Homo sapiens: one gene and its partner. The protein of the gene in region 2 interacts with the protein of the main gene of each other region in a biochemical or structural test. Each region holds a gene or a part of one and is shown on either strand. Other genes may lie near its edges.

Region 1 (3,919 bases), on a different chromosome or scaffold from region 2:
GGGGCACCTGGCCTCTTTTTCAAGCTAAGTAAGGGTATCTGTAGCTGAAACTTTGGTGGTACCCAGAGTTAAAGAAGTCAGTCCCAGAGCAAGACTCCGTCAAAAAAAAAAAGAAGAAGAAGAAGTCAGCCCGTTTTCTGGGGTGGGTAAATACCTGCCTAATTGTTTAGAGTGGAACCCAGCTCTTCAGAGTAAACACAAAAGCCTTTCTTCGCAGGAAATGCAAACCACATTGGGCATGTTAACCCTAGGCTTTTCCTGGCTCCAATGAAAGCGCTATGATTAGGATAAAACCAGGCAAACTTTAGCCTGCGTACGAGCAGGGTCGAGGAGGTGGGTAAGGACTCTGTGGCCGATGGAGCGTGGCCCGCAAGAGGCCACACTCCCATTTCCCAAGAGGCCAAAAGACTGGCAAACAGTGAATACCCCAACTCCCCAAAGAGCCAAGTAGCCCGGGGCTCCAATCACTACCCCCGACCCGGCTGATCTCCGCCCACACAGATCCGAACGCGCTTGCCCTTTGAAAGAAGACAGCAACAGGGCACCCCTCCGCGGGTTTCCAACACCACTCCCCGGGGTGCGCACACGCATCTCAGCCTCAGCCCCAGCTGATCCAGTGCCGCCCTCACCAGGAGACCCTGGACCTCCCTCGCACACTCACTTGTCCAGGACGAAGTAGAGATCAAAGGCTCTTCTGCAGGAGGGCTGCTCCTGGGCGCGCAGCAGCCCCCCGGGACCGCTGAGCACCAACAGCCACAGCCCGGGGAACAGCCAGCTCCCGGGGCTGCGGGCCGGGGACCGCTCCGCCACCATCCTGCGGCCGGGGGCCTGAGACTCCCTCCCGCTCGCAGTCCCCTAAGCTCAGGAGGGTCGCAAAGGTGGCGGGAGTCACCCGGCACGCACTCTGGGGTGGGGGGCGGCGAGCAGCTGAGACGCCGGCGCCTGCGGCAGCGGGACCCACCAGCTGACAGGGAGGGAGAGAGGGAGGTCCTGAGAGGACAAAGGGAGTCTCCGCCACCGCCGCAGCTGCCGCCGGAACTCTTGACGAATCCCAGTGGAAGCGCGATCCAGTCCTCCCCCTCCCGATTCCGGAGAGTTCCTGCAGACAATGCGGGCCCACGGCGACAGCTCGCGAAAGGAGTTCCTCTCCGGCCTGGGGCCGAGCCTCCAGCGCCCGCCTCGGACCCGGACCTGGAACCCACCCCGCCTGGAGGGCTGAAGTCCCCCCCGCTGCCGTGCGCTTCGGGACAAGGGGTCCCTGGGACGCGGCGACGGCAGAACAAACTAGGAGTGGAGACTCTTCTCCTCCGGCGGCCCCAACTCCCTCCGCACTCCGAAACTTTCCTCCCGGTGCTGGACTCTGGCACTGCGCTGACAGGCCGTCCCCTTTAGGGGAGGAGGCTAGCTGGCCCTGGGACTCCCGGCTGGAGAGAAGCCACGCCGAGGGCAGGAGCCCGCTCGGGCCGGGTCTGGGCTGCGTGTGTCAGTGTGCGCCTGGGGACGAGGGCGGGGCCCCAGCTGAAGCCTCCGAGCCACACATGCACACTTGTGGGTTCCTGCCGAGTTGAAGATGACTAACGCTTGCCAGATTTGGGAAAGGGAAGAAGGAGTTTAGAAAAACAAAAGTTATCTAGAAACTAAACATACCCGTATGTCCTGCAGGCCTGGCCTATTTTAGCAGCTGTGCTAAAACAGCCCCCATGCGTGGTTCACAAACCCAAGACTAAGGATTCCATGGGAGGTGACGGCCTCCTCACTCCTCACTCCACCCCACCCCTACTACCACAAACACTCTTTATGAACTTCCTCTTTTTCTTCTAAAGAAACCTGCTTAGTTTTTTTTTTTTTTTTCTTTAAAAAAAGCCAAGCCAAGGAAAGGCCGGAGTGGGGAGTGGGAGGGGATAGCAGGCCTCTTTGGGAGTGGAAAGTTGTACCTCAAAATATTTCAGCCCACTGTCATTTCCCTGCAAGCTCCAGTTTTGGAGAATTTCAGCTTTGGGCAAGCTAGGTCTCCTTTGCAAAACTTGTGCAAGCACTCAAGTTTGTGCACAAATCCTCTGTCTACTAGTTCTGCTCTCCCTCCTCTCTCTTCCCCCCACCTCCGTGACTTCCGCCCTCCCTTAGTCAAAACTGGCTTTTAGAACCTAAATACCTTTTCATTTTTAACAAAATCAATGCTTTATGTAGTACTTACATATACATCTCTTCTGTTTGTTGCCATATGTATTTAACTTTTCATTTATTATATTTGATATACAACCAGATATGTCAGCTCTTTGAAGATAAAAATTAGTTACTTTAACAAAGATTCATTGAGTGCCTATTATTTGCTAGGCACTGTTCCAGAAGTGGAGGTTAGTGCACAGAACAAGATAACAAGCCCTTGCTTTCATGAAGCTGACAGTCTGGCTGAAGAGTGAAAACAGACAATAAGAAATAAATACATAAGCAAGGAAAAAAAATGTCCATATTGGAAAGGTGGCCTGTAGAAATTTAAAATATTGTGATGATAAAGAATGACAGACTCAGTGACTAACAAAAAAGACCCAGTCATTCCAAGAGCTCTAAGGGGAAACATTTGGAGTTACTGCAAAGGTCCATAGACATTAGCTTAGCATATTCAAAAAAGAAAAAAAAAAAACTGTGTAGCTGGAGCTTTGCAGGTAAGATGATGTAAGACAAATAGGCAAGGGCCAGATTATGTGATGCTTTGTTTACTGAGATAAGGAATTCAGATATTTAATATTGAGTGTGACAGGAGGTTATTAGAGGGGTTTAAGCCCAGGAGTGGAGTGGCAGATGAATTGATATGATCTGTGTTTTTCAAAGATCATTCTGGCTGCAATGAGACAATGAATTTGGAGTTAGCAACAGTGACAACAGGGAGAGCAGTTAGGAGACTATTGCAGTAGCAACATGTTGACAAACAATCCTGAGGTTCATAAATTTGGAAAGGAGAACTTCATTTCTTATAAAGGGTTACAGCTGCAGGCTGGACATCTTGACAGGCTGGGAAGTGTAGCCTCTGGCAGAGACAAAAAGCAGGCACTTTGAGGGAGGAAAGGGTGGAACAGGAATTTATGCTAAATGAGTTGGCCAAGTATACATATTCAACAGGTTATAGGAGGAACTATGAATATTTCTGAAGCAAGGGGTACATGAACTATGCATATTTCTGAAGCAGGTGGGTTAAGTTTCCACATCAAAGTGAACATGGGACATATGCAACATGCATGTTTAGTAAGCAAACATGAATAGTAAGCAAACATGCAAGTTGCATATGTCTCATGTTCACTTTGAGGTGGAGACTTAACAATTAAATGTATTATAATTAGGCCCTATATGTCAAAAGGTGAAACAGAAGACATGAAGGCACTCAGTGCCACAGCCTCTGTAAACCAGCCAGAACCAGTCTATGGTCAGTGGTCTCTTATCAGGAGAGTTATTAAAATCAGTCTCTTGTCCAGTCAGAGCTGTAGTTATGGCTTGTGGAACAGGGGTAGGGGTGGAGGATTAATTAGTTAGTGTCTTGCAGTCAGTAAGATGCAATTGTTTCAATATTGCTTATCTGGAGGCCAGTGTTTGTTTAGATGCTAGAGAAAAAGAAAACCCTTTTGGCAGTTAGAATATAGTTTATTTTTTAAGTGTAGGAGTGTGTGACTTGACCTTTGCCTGGCATGGTCTTAGGTCTTGTTTATAATTTGGTGTCTTATGAACACAGAGTACATTCTGTCAGTCTTATCATCTCTATTTTAACAAAGGCAAAATAAAATGGTACCTTGGACCATCATCACTATAGCAACTAACCTGAGAATTATGAATGGATGAAAACTTCAATATATACCGGCAGACCTCCATTTTGAAAATATGCTCATTACAAATGTCAAACATTGAATGGAGGGTGGCTAACATCCCTTCT
Region 2 (3,919 bases):
AGGAAAATACAAATGTGACTTAAATGGGATTGAATGGGGTTCTTATTTTAAAAACTTGACTTTCTGACTTGATGATTTCTGTATGAGCTTTGTCAGGAGTTCAAGCTCAAAGCTTACGTTATTGTGTGTGTGTGTGTTTGTTTGTGTGTGTGTGTGTTAGGATCTCTTGGTTTCCCTGGACAGAAAGGGGAAAAAGGACAAGCTGGTGCAACTGGTCCCAAAGGATTACCAGTAAGTTTTGAGTATATTATAAAACAAAAAGAAGTAGAAGGAAGGCATTTTACACATTGATTTTCAATTATTCATATATATACACACATATACAATTTAATTTTTCCATTAAGTTGTACTTTGTTTGATTCCTTGACTCTTCCTGACTCACATGCCTCACTTGATTCAGCCCTTTGTACATTAAATGTTATTGGATGGGTTGAAGGGGTAAACTGGAGAGAAGAAAATGTTAGAAAAAAAGAAACTGATTTTCTTTTTCTCTTTCTTCTTTTTCCACTCTTTTTTCTTTTTTTCCTTACTCATTTCAGGGCATTCCAGGAGCTCCAGGTGCTCCAGGCTTTCCTGGATCTAAAGGTGAACCTGGTGATATCCTCACTTTTCCAGGAATGAAGGGTGACAAAGGAGAGTTGGGTTCCCCTGGAGCTCCAGGGCTTCCTGGTTTACCTGGCACTCCTGGACAGGATGGATTGCCAGGGCTTCCTGGCCCGAAAGGAGAGCCTGTGAGTTGGTTTGATATTTTTGGTTTTGTGATGTTAAATTTTCACTTAGAAATGTTTTCTAAGTTAATTCAAAGGATGGGACTGATGCTGAGATAAACACCCAATCAATGCTTAAAACAATGTGACCATACAGTAATGGCACATTGTTACTGACTACGTAGGGTTTCTGCACTACTCTTTTCTTTCACTTGTTTTGTAAACTTATTTTTCTTAACCCATTAATATTGAATACTATTTTCTATGAATAGGTGGGCAGGAGGTTAAGATGTTTATGAGACAGTATAAGGTTCCCCATCTCTTAACCCCCACATATCTTTCCTTGGGTTTACTTAAACCTCATGACTGGGCATGGTGGCTCACACCTGTAATCCCAGCACTTTGCGAGGCTGAGGTGGGCGGATCACCTGAGGTCAGGAGTTCGAGACCAGCCTGGCCAACATGGTGAAACCCTGTCTCTACTAAAAACACAAAAATTAGCCGGGCATGGTGGTGGGCGCCTGTAATCCCAGCTACTCGGGAGGCTGAGGCAGGAGAATCACTTGAACCCGGGAGGCGGAGGTTGCAGTGAGCCGAGATTGCACCACTGCACTCCACCCTGGGCAACAAGAGCAAAACTCCATCACAATAAATTAAATAAATAAATAAATAAATAAACCTCATAACCAGCAGTTTAACTTGTTTCTATATATATAGTAAGCTTAGAGAATAGTACAAGTAGATAGCCATGTTCAATGTGCCACAGAACTGAAAGATTTAACATAAATGAACAATCTTATTTTGTACATAACACACAGCCCAGGATATTTAGGTAGGAAGTGATATTTTATAATGTTATCTAGACTATAACCTTTCTGACTTACACTAAAATGTAAGCTGCATAAAGTCAGAGATTTTTGTGTATTTTTGTTTTCTGTTGTATCACCAGCACTTGACACATAGTAGGAGCCCAAAAATATTTGTTGGAGGAATGAGTAAGTGGAATGATCACACATACCATCTCATAATACCACTCACTTATATAGCTTTTAAGAAGAACTATTTATGGCTATATCCTTTCCCCAGTTGTATTCAGTACCAACCTACAGATAGTTGTTGTATCTATATGTTTCTGTATTAAACTTTTCCCTTTTTAGGGTGGAATTACTTTTAAGGGTGAAAGAGGTCCCCCTGGGAACCCAGGTTTACCAGGCCTCCCAGGGAATATAGGGCCTATGGGTCCCCCTGGTTTCGGCCCTCCAGGCCCAGTAGGTGAAAAAGGCATACAAGGTGTGGCAGGAAATCCAGGCCAGCCAGGAATACCAGGTAAGTTTACTGTGTTTTGTTTTAAACTTGGTGCTTAAAAACAGAAATTTATTATGTTTTGGCTACTCATGGCTTCCTTTCCCGAGAGGTGTGTTTCCCTGGCCGTTTATATTTGAACTCTTCAGAGCATCTTAGCAAGGGATCACAATGGTTTTTATAAGGGGGTTTCTTTTTAAATCTTTTCTAACTGTTTCATTGTTACTGTTAATTTTGCTCTTTTTAAGTACATGATACATAATGCAAAGTTTAATAAATAGTTATAACAGAAGCACACAGGTAGCTACCACACACATCAAAAAATAGAATGTTACCAGCATCCTAGAAACCCCTAACCTTTTCTCCCTGTCATTTCCTAATCACAATCCCCTTCCTCCTGTCTGCTGTCTTGACTTTTACATAGTTTTCTTCCATTACCCCTCTGTTTTATGACCTCTGTATGCATTTTTAAACAGAGTATTTTAATTTTGTTTCTTTTTGAACTTCATGTTAAAGGAATCATAGGGTAAGTGTTTTTTATATTAACTTTTCGTGTGGCTATAGTGTATTCATTTTTATTGCTATATAGTATTTCATTGTATGTATGTTTATGTGTGTGTGTGTGTGTGTGTTACAGTTGATTGATCCATTCTATGGTTAATGGTTAATTGGGTTATTTACAGTTCAGGTCTATTATGAATAATGCTTCTGTTTACAGTCATATAGATAGATAGCTAGGTAGATAGATAGATCCCTATATCTCCTTGTGTTCATGTGCTCACACTTCTCTAGGGCAAGAGTTGGCACACTACAGAACTACAGTCCATGGACCACATCCAGCCTACCACCTGTTATAAATAAAAGTTTTATGTGAACACTTCCACAACCATTCACTTTTGTCTGTGGTTGTTTTTGCACTACAACTGAAGAGTTGAGTAGTTGCTACAGAGACTGGATGGTCCACAAAGCCTAAAGTATTTACTCTGGTCCTTTACACAAAAGGCTTACCAATACCTGGGCTAGGGTATGTATTTAAGATTAGCATTTTCAAAGCATAGGATAAGTGCATCTTCCACTTGACTGGATAATTACAAACTCTATCCAGACCAATTGTACCAATTTTTACTACCACAAGCAGTGTTGAATATTTTATGTTGATTTACATCCTTGGAAACAATTTGTATTGTCGGACTTTTACACTTTTGCCAATCTGTTGAGTGTGATATTTTGCATTTCTCTGATTAAAGTTTAGCACCTTTTCATGTGTTTATTGGTCATTTGAATTTGCTTTTGTGAAATGCCTAATCAAGTACTTTGACCAATTTTATATTGGATTATTTCTTTTTTTATTGATTTAGAGGAGTTCTTTATATATTCTGTGCATTAGTTCTTAGTTACCTATGTATTTTGCGAAAAGAAATCTTTACCTACTGTGGCTTGCCATTTTTACTCTTTGTTTGGTGTCTTCAATGAGCAGAAAACAACTTTCACATCATCAAAATTATCAATCTTTTCTCTCATGGTTAGTGCTTTTTGTGTCATGTTTAGGAAATCTTTTTTTTCTTGAGCCAATTTCAAGTTCATGTTTCCATTAATAAGAAGTAGATATACTTGAACTTTGCACATGTAAAACCTAAATGTACCTATTAGCCAAAAAAATATTTTCCTTGTTTACTACAGTTTGATTTTTAATGCTCTTTTGGCCTACATTTTAAAAATACTTATATAGGTAACACCCTGTTTTAGGGGTTTCCAGAGAAACAGAACCAATAAAAAGGATGGACAGATGGGTAGATTAGATAGATAGATAGATAGATAGATAGATAGATAGATAGATAGATAGATGAGAGGTGATTTATTATGGGAATTGACTTACATGATTATGGAGGCTGAGAAATCCCACAGTAGGC

Evidence for each region.
Region 1: the proteins of COL4A5 (region 2) and ANTXR2 form a complex in vitro, tested with the Homo sapiens proteins (one study listed by BioGRID).

The regions. Positions count from the first base shown.
Region 1 is NC_000004.12:80,071,748-80,075,666, forward strand, and holds the start of ANTXR2 (anthrax toxin receptor 2 isoform 1 precursor), read right to left. Parts: upstream 1,483-3,919; 5' UTR 814-1,482; coding exon 662-813; intron 1-661.
Region 2 is NC_000023.11:108,596,838-108,600,756, forward strand, and holds part of COL4A5 (collagen alpha-5(IV) chain isoform 2 precursor), read left to right. Parts: intron 1-160; coding exon 161-231; intron 232-539; coding exon 540-731; intron 732-1,864; coding exon 1,865-2,033; intron 2,034-3,919. UniProt on the Homo sapiens protein: Type IV collagen is the major structural component of glomerular basement membranes (GBM), forming a 'chicken-wire' meshwork together with laminins, proteoglycans and entactin/nidogen.